Linked DNA regions of Homo sapiens: region 2 is linked to region 1. The links come from fine-mapping of genetic effects on gene expression. A gene starts in region 1. The other region holds a variant in brackets. All regions are shown on one strand. Distances are from middle to middle. Region 1 holds the start of FBXL3 (F-box and leucine rich repeat protein 3). Region 2 overlaps MYCBP2 (MYC binding protein 2).

Evidence for each region. PIP is the estimated chance that this variant, and not a neighbour inherited with it, causes the effect. A credible set is the group of variants that fine-mapping cannot tell apart.
Region 2: its variant is the best candidate, but not a certain one, in a credible set for the expression of FBXL3 in whole blood (INTERVAL, PIP 0.83).

Annotation. Positions count from the first base shown.
Region 1 is chr13:77,022,519-77,030,518 of GRCh38, forward strand. It overlaps FBXL3 (F-box and leucine rich repeat protein 3), which reads right to left and starts at 4,641. Exons shown (of 5, transcript NM_012158.4): 1 at 4,309-4,641. RefSeq lists silencers at 4,182-4,241, 4,262-4,541, 4,712-4,761.
Region 2 is chr13:77,060,027-77,071,312 of GRCh38, forward strand. MYCBP2 (MYC binding protein 2) reads right to left here. Exons shown (of 83, transcript NM_015057.5): 69 at 10,605-10,685; 70 at 8,539-8,805; 71 at 7,555-7,838; 72 at 5,966-6,062; 73 at 4,589-4,708; 74 at 2,570-2,671; 75 at 1,636-1,764; 76 at 1,143-1,275. Among named protein-coding and RNA genes, the nearest start is that of MYCBP2-AS1, 9.8 kb to the right of the region's middle. The variant T/C (reference allele first, on the strand shown) is at 6,359.

The DNA.
Region 1 (8,000 bases):
ATGCCTGATGATCTGAGGTGGAACAGTTTCTTCCTGAAATCACCCCCTGCCACGGACAGGCACTGGGCTATGCTATGTGTTACTGCCAGACATTTCTTAACTCCGCCTAAAATAAGCAAAACCACCCCTACTATGAATTGTTTGGTCTGGAATGTAGCTGCTTCTTCAAACACATCACTTAATATTGCACTGTTTTCCCCAAGTTGTGTTTCTGAATTATACCTATTTGTTTATTCTATGTATTCTTAGCACTTTCATTCCATTAGTTTCTTTGAAAGATAGTTTTTTCATGGCAAAACAGTATTATGGCTAAAGAGAATGGGCTCTGGAACCAAGCTCCTTGGGTTTGAATTCTGGCTCTACCTCTCACTGGCTATGTGGCTTTGAGCAAATTACTTGATATTCCTGTGCTTAAATTTCCAAAATTAGTTTAATAAAACAGGGTTTCTGTGAGAAATGCAATACTATTAAGGCTTTTCAAAGGGGAGATACGACTGTTGAACTGTTGAGATATGACTGTTGTGTAGGAAAGCAGTCCAGCATTAACGACATTAAAGTACACAACATGCTAAAAACCAGGGTTACTACCCAGAAGGCAGAGAATGATTCATTCATTCATTCCGTTCACTCATTCATTCATTCCGTTCACTCATTCATTCAAGATGGGGTCTCGCTCTGTCACCCAGGCTGGAGTGCAGTGGCACGATCATGGCTCACTGCAGCCTCGACCTCCTGAGATCAAGCAATCCTTCCACCTCAGCCTCCAGAGTATCTGCATGCACCACCACACCCGACTCTATTTTTGCTTTAAAATGGAGAGAGAGAGAGTGTGTGTGTGTGTGTGTGTGTGTGTGTCAGAGAGACAGGGCAAGTGAGCTTGTGTACGAGAAAACACACCCTGGAAGTAGACTCACTGAATTATTATAGTAACCAACAGTAGACGGCAGATTACAGGTAATTTTTTTTTCTTGCAAACATCTCTTCCCTTTTTATGTTTTACACATTTTCTTTTACTATCAATGCATTACCGTGTAATCGGACTTTTTGGAAAAGTATAGCAGGCTCTAAACTAAATGGCTGCAGACCACTCACTGGTAGTTACTTAGTTCAGAGCCTGTAATACTTTTGTTTCTAGAGAACAGTTCTGGCAGGGTAGTGGTTTCGACCTAAACTTGGGGTCACAATCTTTCAGAAAGATGGCTTGTTGCTCCAACACTCCTCTGGCCTATCAGCATAAAAGAATTTCTCATTCCTGTGTGAGATGAAGGATATGCATATGCATTACTGTAAAACAAATGTTTCTGCAGACTTTCTCCACCCAGTACCTCGCAAAACTTGTGAAAGAGGATTGAGGGCTGGAGAGTAAAAAGAGAATGGCAGAGGCCTCTGACCTTAATGCCATGAAAGTCAGTCAAAGACGTCTTAGCATATGTGCAATAAACTGCCTATTCTTCACTGCTCCTATTCCCAACTATGTGAATAAAATATATTACGTATACCCTACTGATCAGGGAGAGAACAAGAGAGAAAATAGAATGACAGAGGTGACAGCAAGAAGGTAGTCTGATGGAAGACTGGAAATTATGTGTGACTTGAGATTAGTTTTTTTTTAATAAGTTTAGAGAAAAGTGTATAGTCTACACTGTAATCTTTAATATTAAGTCTCTTCTAATAATAATCCCTCACTAGAGGCTGAGATAACACTGTTATTATGACCCATTTTTCTGCTTTAACTTACCCTGAAGGCTTACTTTAATTTTAGTATATAAAATTTGGGTCAAAGAACAAAGTGTTTGCTATCCAGAGCTTATAATTTCTCTTCTGACCACCTAAAACTACTCACAATTTTGAGATACAGAGATTCAAAAAAGAATGACAGTCTTTGCAATTTCTACACCTTATTATAGAATACTGATTGCCTGTTTCTGGAGAACAATCTTCTAAAACCAGAACTAGACAACTTAAAGACGGAATGATTCATTTTACTTTAGAGTATATGGATATATAAACAAAAATAAAATGGTAGCCTTATTCACATAATAGTCTTTGCTAATAAATACTTTGCTGGTCCTAAAAATAGAAACTTTCTTTTGTCTATTATAGTACTGTTTTAAATAAAATGTACTTAAATACCTTTCCAAGTTCAGGTTAAAGAAGTTGACAAAATTTTTTTTAACAGTATGCAACACTAAGGGACAGTATCTCTTGATCTAGATATAAAAACACTATATGATCACCAAAGCCTATTTTAAGAACTTACCAGTTTACAAATAGCTGAATTAAGTCTGTTAATTGTCATACGTAATATGTCTATGTTACAATTATAGTGCATTAAGCAATTGAAAAAAATGTAAGGCCAAATTCCAATAAAAATATCCTCTGCACTATCCTCATTTGTGCATGAAAATAACAGAAGTGAGTGGACACTTAAAATTTTAAATGTCAATTTTTCCAAGTTGATTTCATTTATGTATGAAAAAATTTACACTACTTTAATAGTATCTTATTAAATCTATTTACACATGAAACTCTGCTATACATAAAATTAAACATCTCAGAGCATCTTCCAGCCTGCAAATAATTTACATCAATGGACCCTATAATTCCTACTTTTGTCAAAGTGAAAACACCTCCTATATTTGAAAAGAAGTGTGGAGAACCAAGCTGTACTATAAAACGTCAATGAGACATTCTAGACTCTAGAAATCTAGAGCACCAAAACTAGGCCTCTTCAGGGCTCTGGCAGTTTAATTTCCTGCAAAGCTTCTAGGCCCCAAATAATGCAACTTAGGCCACCACAGCTTTTGGTGAGGGACTGATATGACTACAAACTGCTAAATAGCAAACTACTGAGGAAAGACCACAGACTAGCTGAGCAGCACAAGGAGTTAGTGAACTAACTCTATGTTCCATAAACTTTCCAGGTGGGCGCGGTGGGCCACGCCTGTAATCCCAGCACTTTGGGAGGACAAGGCGGGCGGATCGCTTGAGCTCAGTAGTTTGAGACCAGCCTGGGCAACACGATGAAACCTGTCTCTACAAAAATTAGCTGGGCATGGTGGCCCATGCCTGTAGTCTCAGCTACTAGGGAGCCTGGGGTGGGAGGATCGCTAGAGCCGAGATCGCGCCACTGCACTCCAGCCTGGGTGACAAAGTGAGTCCTTGTCTCAAAAAAAAAAAAAAAAAAAAAAAAACTTTGAAAGAAGCAACTTCATTAGGTGAAGACCGGAAGTGAACAGCTAGCCGTGTGCATCGTTGTATTAGGCACTTTTACACTGGGCATGCAATAATTTTAAATGCTCATTTGTAGTTAACTCTAAAAAGCCTATTTTGGCATCACAGTTCCTTTCTGTTCTGCTTTTACTAATATCAAACTAATATGCATTCTTTGGCTGAACTACAAGAATAAAACACTATAAAGAGGTTAACTCACAACTAAATGCTTAGAGAGCGCACAGTGGCGAAAATCTGTCTACAGGTCATATAGATAGATAGATAACTGATAGTTGATGGTATTTTTATAAATATTTCAGAGATAACAGAAACTAAGTTACTTTTTTTTCAAGTTAGAAAAGGAGGATTCTAATTAAAAAATCTGGGTCACTCAACTGGATATCATTAGCAACGACAAAATAAAAATGATCTCTCTCACCTCTCAGCTTGGAGATACAGACCATTTACTGGGCTGCTTCCTGACCCCTGTCTGCAACCCCACCTAAAGGACTGCCCACGCCAAAGGCAGACGCGAATCCGCTCAACACAAGTTGACCAAGTTTTTCGCCTGGCTAAGCGGCAGGGGCGTCCCCTCCTCCCTGCGCCACCTCCCCACCGACTGGCTTCCCCTGACATTTCTCATGCGCCCCACCCTGGGCAGTTTGCTTTGACATTTCAGTGCCTCATTGCTCAAGCTACCAGCACGGGCGTAGCCGACGCCGGGAGAGCCCACAGAGTGCGAGCTCCATGGTGCCTGTCACCAGCCCCCGCCAAGGGTCATAAAGCCTGGCAGGAGCCGCGGCGAACCCGGGAGCGGCGGCGTCGCGGGCAGGCTGCAGGCGGCCGCCGCACACGCACCACGCCTTGTTGACATGTTTGGAAGCAGGCACGGCGGGGAAACGCCCCCAAGCAAGCTCCAAGGTCTGGGTGCCGCGCCCCGCGCCCCGCCCGGCACTCCTGAGGAGCGGCCCGCGCGCGCCCCGGCCCCCGCGCCCCCCCCCACCCCACCCCACCCCGGCCCGCCCACAGACGGTCCGCGGTCCCTCCCCGGCTCCGCCGTCGCAGCGGGGCTCGGCCCTGCCCCTCCGCCGTTACCTGCTGCCGGGGGCGGCTTCCCCCACACACCACCCCGTGCTCCGGGGACGGCGGCGGCTGCAGGTCCCGCGGCTCTCACATGAGGCGCCCCTGGCCCCCCGCTTCGCGCTCCCGCAGCCGCGGCCCCCCGCGCTCCGCCCGCATCCGAGGCGCTGGTCCCGCGGAGGGCGCCAACGCGGCTCCACCTTTGCGGCTCTGGCTGCCCAGAAAGAAGCTTTCCTTCTCAGTCCCGCGCTGTCTGTGTTCAGGGATCCCCGGCGCCGCGAGAGACTACCTCAGCGAGCGGCTGCCACCGCGTAAGCTTCCTGCACCTGGGCCACAAACAGCGAGTCTAAAATGGCGCCCAGGGCTCGCGGCCGCGCGCTTCCCTGGCGCGTCCCCGCCCAAGGGGGCGGGAAGGGGGCGGGGGGGGGGCGGAGCCCGGCGGGAGTAGGGCCGCGCCCAAGCGGGAGCGCGCGCTGCGGCCGCCCCAGTCTCCTTGCTGTGGGACGAGCCTCTGCCTTCCTGCCAGAGATGTGACTCCCGCTTGAAGGGGATTTTTTTTGTTGTTTTGAGATGGAATGTGGGAGGGCTGAAGCTAGCTATATGTGGAAGAGACTATCTGTGGCTGAAACTGGAAGGTTTAGGGAGGTGGAGCAGAAAAAAGAAAGGAAGGAGTCTCGCCGGAGCCTGCTGGGGACCGCGGCCCGCGGGTGGCCGCCCCGGATGCCTGAAACCGAGGAGTTAAATACAGTCTCCGAAGACCCGCGCATCGATGTGCATAAGTGGTGCTTAAAAGATGCCAAGGAAATGTACCAGAATAGTGAGAGTATTAACGCTGGGATTGCACATGGTTTTTGTTTTTCAAATATTTGTATTTCCCAATATTTCTAAAGTGGCTTTTATCATTAGAGTTATTACATTTTAAAAACGACATTTGCTTTATGAAATAGAGTCCTGAAATTTGTAAATAGCTTTTGAAACGCAATGGGGAAAGTAAAGGATTACAAAGCTGCTGAAAAGAAAACCTCTGGTGAATCCTTTTGTAAATCAAGGCATCTTTGTAACTGCTACCTAGTTGACTTGTTTTAAAGTTTGGATTTTTTGATACTGCGTTTTCTTACAGTTAGAAACATTCTTAGGTGCAATATCATTAAGTTGAATCATGCGCCATTCCTCTCTACACCTCCAAAAAAAAAGAGAGAAAGTAGTTTTCCATTCAAAGATGTCTTAGAACACTCAGACCCATGTATAAGACACTGAAAAGCAGTGGTGCCCAGGGAGCTCTCCGTTCTTCCCGTTTTCTCAAGAAATTGAGCTAGGAAGCCATGTATAAAGTTACGTCGAAGTTCAGTGTGAGGCCAGGAGTGGTACAGGCTTATGTCTGTAATCCCAACATTTTGGGAAGCCAAGGCAGAAGGGTTGCTTGTGGTCAAGAATTGGAGACCAGCCTGCGCAATATGTCCAGACTCTTGTCTCTACAAAAAAATAGAAGAGTAATAATTTTAAAAAATCAGACGAGCTTGGTGTAATCCCGGCTACTACTCAGGAGGCTGAATCGAGAGGATGGCTGGAGCCCAGGAGTAGGAGGTTACAGTGACCTATGATGTCACCACTGCACTTCAGTCTGGGTGAGAGAGTGAGACTGTTTCTATAATAAAATGAATTCAATGTGGGGAAATGCCAGTGTTGTTTGTTCGGTGTTTTTTAAGGGCCTGTCAGCTGTCAGATCACTGAATCAAACTGTACAAAGCCTCTAGTAGCATAAGAGTGTGGATTTGCCTGAGCTGCAACATTTGTTTAGGTCCCTCAGTGACTGGATGATGAGGAACAATAGGAAGTTCTAAGAAGGACAATGATAATTATTAAGGAAAAACAAATAAGTCAAATACAGGCCCATTTATTTAAAGTTGGGTGAACAGTATAAATGATCAGCAAAATACATTAAACCAATTCAGTAAACATGATGAGCATAGGTTGCATTACGTTAATATTGTATCACATTACGGTTATATCACATTCCAATCATAGTTCTTTTTTTTCTTTTTTCGCCATTATGATCTATTCTCCTCCTAAACAAGACAAGGACCTTGGCACACTTGACCTATTGAATACCCCTTTTCTTCCCTGTTATTGGCAAATATTTTATTTCACCTCATTTTTTTTGAAAAAAAACGTTTATTTTTTAATCAGTCAGTACTTATTTACATTTATCAATTGTATCATCAAGATCAGTGGCATGGTAGGTGGGAGAAAGGATGAGTGTGGAGCACATTGATCCAACTGGGAAAAATAATTTATTACTGACCCTGTTTGGAATTGCCAATGCATGTGGTAATAAAAAGCAGATGAACAATTAGTCTCTTTATTATTGTTTTAAATTATCCACAGACAATGTACCCCCTCCACCACGTAGAATGGTGTAGACTATTCCCACACCACCCCAGCCTTGGTACACCAATGATCAGGATAGATTAGATTATGTTGCAGTAGTTCCTTAAATACCATCTTGTAATTCCTCGTTTTTGATGACCTTTACAGTTTTTAGGAGTACTGCTTTAGTATTTTTGTAGAACGTCCCTCAATTGGGGTTTGTCTTAGGTTTTTTTCTTATAATTACATGGGGACTATGGATGTTTTAGAAGGAAAACTACAGAGGTATAAAGTACCATTCTCATCACATCATATCAAGGGTACATCTATTAATACGACTTATCCTTGTTGATGTCAACATTAATCAGAGGTTGAGATCAAGTTATTCTACTTAAAGTTACCCTTTTCCCTCTCTTTTTGTACTGGAAGAAAGTCACTATGTGCAGCCAACACTGAAGAATGTGGATTTACCTGAACTGCAACATTTCCTTGAGAGGGGAATGTCTATTTAAATTATTAAAACTTTTCTGTCTTGGGAGGTGTATCTACATATCTCTTAATTGTATATGTTTACTTTTCTGTCTGTAATTTCTGTAGATCTGTCTTCAAGTCACTAATTTAGTCTATTTAGTCTTTGCTAAGACTACCTTTGCCTGCGTTTTTCGTTTCTAAAAGTTTTATTTGGTTCTTTTTCATATCTACCTGATCTTTCTTGATACTCTTTTCACTTTGTAATTTCTTTTTTTCTTAAATTGTTTTAATCCTATGAAATAATTGGGGGTCTAATCATGATATGTGTCAATGTTTGTTCATGGTGGGTTGTTCCTCATGTATTTTATAATTTTGGATTGTGAGTTCATCTTCCGTACAACTTTAGCTGCAGGAATTTTGTGCAACAGGCAGAAGCTGGAAGGGGAGGAGATTGTTAGTGAGTGCTGGAAAGACAATAAGGAATTGTTAATGGAGTCCAGAGAAATCAGGATATCTTTAGATATCTTTCATATAATAATGGCAAGCCCAGGGAAACATTTGTCTATGGCAACATGGAAAGTAGAGAAATGCATTTATTTAATTGTTGGACTTGGCTAAAGAAATTTCCAAGCAGGCTGGCTGCAGTGGTTCACGCCTCTAATCCCAGCACTTTGGGAGGCCAAAGTAGGCGGATTGCTTGAGCTCAGGAGTTCAAGACCAGCCCAGGCAACATGGCGAAACCTTGTCTCTATTAAAAATACAAACAAATAGCTGGGCGTGGTGGCATGCACCTGTAGTCCCAGCTACTCAGGAGGCTGAGTTAGGAGGATTGCTTGAACTTGGGGATGGAGGCTGCAATGAGCTGAGAC
Region 2 (11,286 bases), 39 kb after region 1:
ATAAGGCATGGTATAAAGCCTATCATCAGAGTATGAAACTTGAAAAACAGAATTCCTACCTCAGGAACTCTGCAATTTGAAAAGGAATTTAAATATGTTTGAAATACTTAAAGAAGAAACAGAATCAATAAAACAAGAACAGAGCAATAAGAAAAAGAACGTGAAGATTTGAAAATTACAGACCAAGCTGATTTTTAAACACAGATATAAAAATCTAACTATAATTAATATCAATATATTGAATTCAGCAATATTTACAGAAAAATCTATTTAAAAAGGATGGTTTACAAGGATGGTTTGACATTAGAACATTTATTAATGCAGTATACAGCACTGACAGATTATAGGAGGAAGAAATCAACTATGAGAAAAGAAGGTCATGCTCTTGCAGCATGCAAAGTCACCCTAGAATTAAATTGATTCGGATTTACACCTAACTCCAACACTGGAAGTTCGTGTCAGTCAAATGGCAGACTGCAGATGTGCTGAAAACTGAGAATTTGTAAGATTCAACATAACTTTGAACTAGGAATATACAAGATTTACTTTAGAAAAGCAGCAAAATGAAAACTATGTTTTAGAGATAAAAATACATTTAACATACATAGGTTACCTTTTGTTTTATGTCTATTCATTTTTGTTAATTATTTTATTGCTATCAATGGAAACAGTACCATTCACAACACCTTCAGAAGCATTAGGTCTACAAAAACCTCTAAATATCATAAAATCATACAACCTTATAATAAATAGAGATCTTAGTGATCATCTAGTGCAGCAATTTTTATTGTGGGGCAACAACTAGCAGAACTAGAAGGGAATTATCAATAGAAATGTATTTTATCTATGGAGCCCCATTAGTTGTGATCCTCTCACTTTATAAATGAAGTCAATGAGTTCCAGAGGTTAAGTGACTTGCTCGACACCACACAGCTAGTTAGTGGCAAATCAGGTTTCTTGACTTTTGGTCTAATGCTCTCTTCACCATAGAACACTCTATATATTTAGTAAATATATAGATCAATGATGTCATAATTAAACATCAGAATATCACTCAAAATTATTCACAGTTTAATCAGTTGGCACGGTTTAATCTTTTTTTGTGGGTTTTAAAGGCATGGCTCAATCTTTAAACCTTTTACCTGTGTGTTCTCGGAATTCCACCATTGCCTTCATTGTTTTAGAATCTGCCAGTGCCATCAACCAGAACAATTTGGTTCTACCACAACCTTCATGAAGGTCAACCTTTATAGCTTCTTCTTCTTCTTTGAAGACCTATTATTTCATTAAAGAACAGGGAAAAATATGCTTATTTATCACTCTGAAAGGGAGAGTATAAAATTTAATTATTCAATAATAATAATGGCTTTCATTTAAGCACTCTAAGAAGTTTTGAATATTTCCAATCTTCTCTTTAATCTTCACAGCAGTCCCTTTTTTATAAATGGAGAAATTAAGTGTTTCTAAGGATAAAACAACTTGCTATTTATAGATGGTAAGCGAGACAGCTGTGAACTCAACCAAGGTCTTTGATTCCAAAGTCCACTTTTTCCCCCTACTACACAAAGCCTCTTTCACACATTTATTTCAAAATTCACTGAACATATTTTATGCTCCAGAGACAAAAATCTTCACCTGTCTTTGATGAGTTTTGGTTCTTCGATGAAGGTGAAGGAATCTGTCACAGTCTGTACATAAATTTCCACAGACATTGCATAAAATGATTGCTGCAGTTTCACCATCATCATGGTTATCACACATAGGCTAAAATAAGACATTTCCACGTTACTTAGATTAACAAGCAAGTCTCAGACTCTCATACAAATTGAATATAATTTATTTACAAAAATAAACCGTTATTCGGAAGTCTATTAAGAATTTAGAATCTGAATATTAAACAGAATTATTGCAAATGTACTTAACTATAAAAATCTCTCAAAACTCCAAATCCAATCATTAATGTGCTTTGCAGGTTCAATGATTAATACAATGAACAGGTATACTTTGTTACTTAGAGACTTAAGAAATGTCTGCCCCATTATATATCTAAACATTCTGTATGCCAAAGGAAGAAACTGTTTATTTTTGAAACTTGAACATTAATAAGAAAATGGTGAAAGGGCCTATATAAAGTTTTCCTTTCTAGTGAACTTAAAGATACCCATCAAACCTACTTAAGTATATATGTGAACAGGTGGTGTGTCATGTTGCCTGTGTTATTGCTTTATTTCCTTCCTACCATAAGACTGATTACATTTTAGTAAAATATCTAGTCACTAAATCAGACTCTGGCTAAAAATAAATTTTGATATGATGCAAACATGACTCAGAGAAGAAGAAAGCTCTTTAATATACTTAAATAAAAGCCCCTAAAGTTTCCATATACTATGAAGTAGGGACTCTCTGAAATAGACTTGTGAGATGAACTTGGCCGAAGGGACACAATCTTTCAAGAGATCCACTAACTGTTTATGTTGATGTGTTTTTTGTTTGTTTGTTTGTTTTTAAGCTAAGCTAAAGCTTACTGTAAAGGAAAGCAAGATAAATTCTTACAAAATTCTGATCTTACCATTTGTTTTTGTTGTCCATCCTTTCCCATCCATCTCCCCGAGGAGAGACGATCTACGTGGTCCTGATCAAGAACACATAGGGATGCGAGAGCAAGCCAGAGCTGTTGAAAGGGAAGGCTGTTACACCACTGAATTTTTAGGAAAGACTTATGAAATGCTGACTGTGACACATCACAACAGCTCAATAAATGCTGGCTGATTTTGAAAATACATAGATACTCAGTGGCACTCAAGTCTTCCTGATGTGGTAGCAGGCATACACGATCACTGTCCTATGTGCCATGCACACAGGAGGCACTCAGATATCTACTGAACAAGTGACTGTTTCTCTGATGAACCACCCTGTCTTCTATCTGACAAATAAAATTATCCTTTATTGGTCTACTATGTAAACAACATATGAATAAATGAATTGGCATATTTAATATTTACTACTAATGTCTTCTGAATATTTTTCCATTTAGTATCATTAAATGCCAAAGAAGGTGGTACAGCAACTGCTAAATTGTGTACAGTCCCATGAGTAGTCAGGTACACATTAAATCCTTCTAGATAATAAAAGTTCCTCAGAAGTCTTTGTTGCCCCTTGTTGCCCCAGAAAGCCTAATACTATACTTGGTGCACTTTGTCAGAAATACATACATGTCTAAAAGCTTTAGAAAACTGTTCTCCAAAATAGGGCCGGGCACAGTGGCACATGCCTGTAATCCCAGCACTTTGGGAGGCCAAGGTGGGTGGATCACCTGAGGTCAGGGGGTTATGACCAGCCTGACTAACATGGTGAAACCCAGTCTTTACTAAATACAAAAAAAATTAGCCAGGTGTGGTGGTATATGCCTGTAATCCGAGCTACTTGGGAGGCTGAGACAGGAGAATCGCTTGTACCTGCAGGCGGAGGCTGCAGTGAGCCAAGATCGTACCATTGCACTCCAGCCTGGGCATCAAGAGTGAAACTCTGTCTCAAAAAAAAAAAAAAAAAAAAAAAGACAACTGTTTTCAGAAATAGTTAAAAATTTCTGAGGCTTAAAGGGTAAGCTTCAGTTTTATATAGAATGATATATCCCCTCATTAATGAAGAATAGAAAATGACTTAACTAGCTCAACTCTAAGAAGTGCATGTGAGTGTTATTGGATACAGAAAGCAAGAGATGTTAAAATAGGGACAGAAAAATAGAAAAAGAAATAATGCATGCAAGGAGGAAGGGGAATGCAGACTGAAAGAAAGCAACACATGAGTGGTAGGAAAGGATTACTGTCAAAAATACCTATTTCAGGTGTCACAGTCAATAATAGCAAGATAGCATAAATTGACTTTTTCCGCCCTAGGGATATATAGTTTATCTTCTTCAGATTTCTGAGGATTAACCTAAGCAATTTTTACCAGCATTCACTTCTTCCTAACGTTGTCAGACTGCCCTCCTTCAAGGAAATCTCAAATCTCTTCTGGAAGTATATGGGACATGAAATCTAGCAGGTTAAAACTTACTATAAATGTGTCATCTGAAGAATGCAATCTCATTTCCTCAAAGATTTCCACCCTGACCCTGCCCTGGACAAGCACTTCTTGCTTTTTAGAAGTAAGACCTATAAATCCTGTAAGTAAGTTACAGGGCTCTACATTAGGAACAACCAGGCATAGGCAGGGGTCTTGTCTCCAAAGGACCTTCGGTCTATCACAGCATAATGCTGGCACTAAACTTACTGTGGTAAACTACAGCAAACAGATCATTAGAAAGACAACACGCAAACAATGTACAATGTAATTAGCCTTTTCTAACCAGTGTACCCTTGGCTTCCTAAACAATAACAAAAACAAGTGACACAGAACACATAACAGTGAGAAGTAACGACTAGTTCATAATATAAAAGCCCTTTATACTTTTTCAATAAATACGGTATTTGGTTAAAAAATAATTATGTTGACTTAGTGATTAAAATTTGTTTAAATCTATTACTAAAAAAGAACACGCAATGATACACACCAAATTTAAAACAAAACAAAACAAAGCAAAACCTACTCTAGTTGTTGCAATACATCTCACTGGAGACCTAAATTCTTCTTCCATCTTGGTCAAGGCAATGATGGTTTCTGCAATAGCATTTTTTGTCACTCGGGACCAAGCTTCTGACAGATGACCCTATTGAGCAGAACAGAGTATTTTAATAAGTGACCAGAAATGTATTACCATAGTAAACTCTTTTTTCTTAAATAACATCTCCTATCAAAGGAAATATTTGTTTTTAGTGAGACCATGGAATTTTAGATTATGGGCACAAACTTTTGAACTAAAATTTCTTCGTGATCCTATGGAAAATTCAACTTCTAATCATCATTTTGATATTTAAAAATAAATAAATAAAAAATTAAGTTCTCAATACTCTTTTCCTGGAAATCAAGGGCAATTACTCTCACATCTGATAAAAACATAACAGAAATACTAAGGTTATCTATGTTTGAGAAGTTTGTCACTTAGCATAAAATTTACACAGTGAAGCTAACTGCTTTAGATGAGTATTACAGGAACCTAAAATATAAACAGGTTCAAACTGCAACTACCTTTATTTGCTACCTTGATTTGTAATGAACAAACATTTAACTATCATATAATTTAGGTGTTCCTAAATATTACTCCTAAATATTTTAATTCAATGAACACCCTGAGAAAGTCTGTTTGCCACAGAGGTTGAGAAAATATCCACGCTGTTGGGAAAAGTGATAGAACTTCATCTTTCCCCCAGAAAATCCTCCCACTTCTCATATCCACATGATTTAAGGGGCAGTTCAATTCCTCCTCCTTCTCCAAGCTGCCTTCTATTCCTTCTGACTCTACATTCCATACTATCTTGTCCTTCTCAGGCTGCCCTCCTAGAAATAATACAATGTGTGGAAAATGACAAGGAGCAACTAATCAGAGCCAGGCATTCTGTAAAGTAACTCCCTGTCCTCCACACTCCCAGATCTCCTTTGGAAGCCACCATCTTAAGACAGAGGGTATATGACATTAATAAAGAAGAATAAAGGGTTTAAAAACCATGAGGACTGAGGAGAATGAGAAACTTCCACTTTCGAGAGCTCTCTTCCTCTTTTTTTCCTTTAGGTTTTTTGAATCAAGTTCTTTCTTAGGGTCTGAAAGAGCATATTTTATTTTATTAGATTTTAAAGTCACGTAACAATTCCCACACAAATTAACTGGAAAATTTGAAATGAACATGGTTTACATAAATGACAAATTATCACTCACTGAAAAGACAAACAGCATGATAGTTAACATACTACAAATAGTCTTTAAGTAAAGTTACACTAATCTACATCTCCTATCAATTCAGCAGAGTAAGCTGTTTTGTGTCAGCTTCCTGCCGCACTTCACTGCCAAAACAGAAGAATGGGAACTTACTGCTGCCATATCCTTGATAAGTTTAATGATGATCTCTGAGATCTGGGTAGGGGTTGAGCCCTTCATCCACCAATGACTTTCACCTCGTCGGAGATAACTACAAGAAAAATTAGCACTTAAAAAGCCAATAAATTATCAGTAGTAGTAACAAATGAAAAAGATGAAAATGTTATTTCAGAATGCAGCATTTTAGATTTTTAAGTGACTGAATCAATTAAAACATTTAAAAAGAAAATTCATCAAACCATTACCCCAAATCCCAAGACAGCAGTTAAGGTTATTTGAGTTCCCTTTCAAGTATTTCTCTGTTTGCACATTATTTCTGTGTGCATCTTTTAGAAGTACAGTCCAGGGACCACACACGACTTATTTCTAGGGCACATGCGGATAATG[T/C]GGAGCTTAACCGGAATATAAATTCACTGTATCACTAAGCACACTACTATTTAGTTCAGCTGACTTTTTTCCTAGCAAGACTACAGGAAAGAAGTGATACAATGATTAACATTCTGATGTTATCTGCATATTGTCATGGATTGGCTCTACAAGTAGCACTGTTCAGATGTCTCTAATTCTCTACTGTTACACACAATTACAGAACATCCTTGCATATATACCTTGGTGCAAATGCATGAAAGTTTTAGAAGTAGAATTGGTAGGTCAAAAGATATGCATATTTAAAATATAGTTAGATATTATAAACAGATATCCAAAAAGGCTGCAGCAATTTATATGAGATGAAAATGCCTATTTCCTCATAATGTTGCCAAAGCATCAAAGATATTTTGCAATTATTTTAATCTACATTTCTCTGATTAGTAGTGAGGTGTTTTCATTTGTTTACTGGCATTTATAAGTTTTTTTCTGTGAACTGACTACTGGCATTTATAAGTTTTTTTCTGTGAACTGACTGTTCTTGTCATTTATTATTCTTATCAGTTGTTTGCCTTTTTAAAATTGATTTGTAGTCATACTTCTATATTATGCTAACAAGTCATTGTCTATTATATAGGTTTAAGTATTTTTCTAAGTTATTTCCCTATATTTTAAAACATTTAAATATTATCACCTATCAAGTAATTTTCATTTTTATATAGTCAAATCTATAAATATCTTCCTATATGATTTTGGGTTCTGTGTTTTGTTTAAGAAGGTCTTATCAAATTGAAGATTACAAAAATATTCTTCTATAATTTGTCCCAGTACAGTTTTAAAAAGAAATGTACATAAAGCTTTAGTTGACCTGAACTTTACTTTATTCCCCCATATTTATTTCTTTTTATTGTGGCAAAAAAACATATTACCTAAAACTGAAGTTTAATTTTGTATATGGTGAGAGGTAGGTATCTAGAATTTTTTTTAACATGGATATCCAAATATTCTGACATCACATATTCAGCCTACTTTCTATTCCCCACTAATTATAAATGACACTTTTATTATATACATGACCTTTTTAGATATTAGCCAGTTGTTTATGGATTTTATTTGGTGAGTAACCTAACAAGGTAAAATCTGAAATTATGTCTTAAATTTCTGAACAGTAGCTCACTCTATTCTGTTTTGGTACTAAAATAGAGGCAATAACTAACCTGGAATTGAAAATCATCGGAAGAGTAACTGTTGTAACTCCTTTGCCCACAGTGGTACCAGCTGTTCCAGTGATGGTGGTTCCTTTGGCTTTTAGCTGTACAGTGAGTGCTTTGGCAATGCATCCTAGAAACATGTCCAAGATACCCAGCTTATTCCAGTCTCCTTTCTCTGTTGAGTGAATGATATCACTGATATCTGCTGGGGGGAGGGATTTCACTCCTATGATGCTGGCCAGACGACTAGGGGTTACTTCAGGCAAAACTCTTCTTAGTAAAGAGGTTACCTGGTAAGAAAAATAAAATGAGAGAATTCCATGTAAAGACTAATGTTTTAAGGTTTCTTTTATTTCTCTTTTCTTTTTTTAAAGACAGGGTCTTGCTTTGTTGCCCAGGTTGGAGTGCAGTGGAGCAACCACAGCTCACTGCAGCCTTGAACTCCTAGGCTCAAGGGATCCTCCCAGCTTTGCCTCCCAAAGTGCTGGGATTACAGGCATAAGTCACTGTACCCCATCCCAGGCTTCATTTTTTAATGTACCTAACTACCATTCTGTAACTTCAAAATCTTTAAGAAAAGAAATATGATTTAAACACTATTTTACATTTTGTGAAGGAAGAAAATATGATATACATACTATTCAAATGGTAATAGTAGTGGTAATTACTAACCCAAGGCAGCACGAAAAAAAATACCTTTTCTTTCTGGTCAGGGCTAAATGACATTATATATTTCATGGTAATATGGTAATCAGTAGCCAGAATACTCTCTTATCACAACACATTAATAAAATGGAACATATTTTACTATTCTATACTCTCACTATAAACAGTAAAAAAGGGAGTAAAATACAGGCCCCAAACAAAATATAACAAAATACGAAATAAAAATCTATACTTAGGGTCCTTAGATAATTCTCTTTGCATTGCAACTTTTAACAATGTTTCAAGTAACAAAAGCAATGGAAAGGCTGTAGTGTGATCAGTCACCTGTCTCTGGACTCTAGGAGAGGCTGTGTGAAGCAGCGAGAAGAGATCCTGAAGCAGGGTTAGCTGTTGAGCCAGATATTGCCGGCCAACGTTAGAGCCACTCAGTGCTAAAACCATAGAGAGCAGCTCAAAGCAGTAGGCATCAGAGGAGGCATCTTCATCATTTGGCTGAGAATTGGCATTTTCTTTGCTTGATATAGCATGTTCCCATTCTTCACGGACTCTGGTAGCTTCCATGCGAATAGCTTGGACAATATGAGCACACACCTATTTAAAGTTAACACAGAACATGTAAAAATATAGGGTTAGTTTGATTTACTACTCCTAGCAAAACAAGCAAACAAAAGAATAAGACAAGAATGTAAATTGATACTCAATTTAATACTATTCTCCCAGTTAATTCTCCATCATATGTCATTCTCTTAACTCATCTAAGAAACAAGTAAAGCTAAGGGAGCCACAATAAAAATGGAAATATTTAAATCAACTACTATGTGCAAACTGATTATATGCAAGTTATTAATGCCTATGCTTACAGTTTAGCACGTCAAAAACCAATCACCATATTTTATCACTGAAGGCACTTTTTCTCATGGTTTACCATTATGTTCATAAGGTGCTTTATAGCTGATAAGATTCACAATACTGAAATTATACATGACATTTTACAATTGAAAGCATCTAAGATTCAATGAAACACTGCTAGAAAGATAAAGCAAAAATAAATTCATGTTGTAGTTCATTGAAAAGAATAATAGTGTAGAAAGTTAGAATAGGGCTGGGTGCCGTGGCTCACGCCTGTAATCCCAGCAATTTGGGAGGCCGAGGCGGGCGGATCATGAGATCAGGAGATCGAGACCATCCTGGCTAATATGGTGAAATCCCGTCTCTACTAAAAATACAAAAAAATTACACCTGTAATCCCAGCAGTTTGGGAGGCCGAGGCAGGTGGATCATGAGGTCAGGAGATCGAGACCATTCTGGCTAACACGGTGAAACCCCGTCTCTACTAAAAATACAAAAATATTATGCCTGTAATCCCAGCACTTTGGGAGGCCGAGGCGGGTGGATCACGAGGTCAGGAGATCGAGACCATCCTGGCTAACACGGTGAAACCCCGTCTGTACTAAAAAAAAAAAAAAAAAAAAAAAAAATTAGCCAGCCGTGGTGGCAGGCATCTGTAGTCCCAGCTACTCAGGAGGCTGAGGCAGGAGAATGGTGTGAACCCAGGAGGCGGAGCTTGCAGTGGGCCGAGATCGCACCACTGCACTCCAGCCTGGGCAACAGAGCGAGACTCCCTCTCGAAAAAAAAAAAAGTTAGAATAATAGGTTAATTTAAAATCAATATTTTATTTGACTTTTGAAGTGATATTTTTATGTTATGTAGCACCCCATTATATGAACAATATAGCGCTATTTCCTCACCTGGTTATATTTAAAAATATTAACACTGGTATAGTTAACACTGTTAATTGCTCAGCCAACACACAGAAGAATGGGGGAAAAGAAATATGGGAAATGCAAATCAAATCTGATATAGCTGGGTATTTGACACCAAATAAAAAATCTACCCATAACAAATAGCAGCAAGGTAAGCAAGTTTTCATAAGTAAAATCTTTAAAATGATGAAGGTATGCCAAAATACTCATTCCTCTCTAAAAAATGGCAGGCACATTCTGCAGGACCTATAAAAGGGCGAGCATAAAAAAGCCTTCATAAATTTTTCAAAATACTTTATACCAAGCTCATCCAACCTGCAGCCGGGGGACTGCCTGTGGCCCAGGATGGCTTTGAATGTGGCCCAACACAAATTCATAAACTTTCTTAAAGTATTAGGAGATTTTTTTTTCTTGCAATTTTTTTTTTAGTTCATCAGCTATTGTTAGCCTTAGTGTATTTTATGTGTAGCCTAAGACAATTCTTTTTCTTCAAATATGGCCCAGGGAAGCCAAAAGATTGGACATCCCTGCTTTATACCCTAATAACAAACAAACAGACAAACAAACAAACACACACACACACACACACAAAACTAATGAAGACAATGAAATAGCTGTTAACCAACCTGTTTTTGTAAGTTAGTCAGCTTACTCCTGCTGAATATGATTCCAACCATATGTTCTTTCAGGTCAGCATCTGATGTTGCCTTTACATAGAAAAAGAAAAAAAAAAAAAAGAATGAAGTGGTCTCTTTAAATAAAATTTGTATATGTGATATTTCAAAGTAACTTGAGAAATAATTTTGTGTATATATTTTTAAAGTAAATTTATTTTAAATTGAGGCTTATAATACTAAGACAAAGGATAAAGTTTGAAATAAAAAGAACAAAATCTCAGAACTTAGGAAATTCAGAGAAGTATATTCTCCTTTCACAAATTTCTTTAATGTAGTCAATTTGAGTAGCTTTGATTAAATCTATTTCTAAATTGTAAACATTATTAGTTCACATCCCACATTTAATTGTTTGAAGAACAATCCAGGAAAATAACATTTGTTTAAAAGGAAAGTGTCCTAACAAACCTCTGTGATGATAGTGGTCTTAAATTAAGCTATCGGAACACCAAGTCATCAAAGAAATGTATCATAAGGAAAAATATAAAGGCTAAAATTTTATAGAGCTTATTATGTGCACGCTGTTCTTCTAAGTGCCACATATGTATATATGTGTGTGTATATATATATATGCATGCACGTGTGTGCACACGCACACACACACACACACACACACACACACACACACACAAAT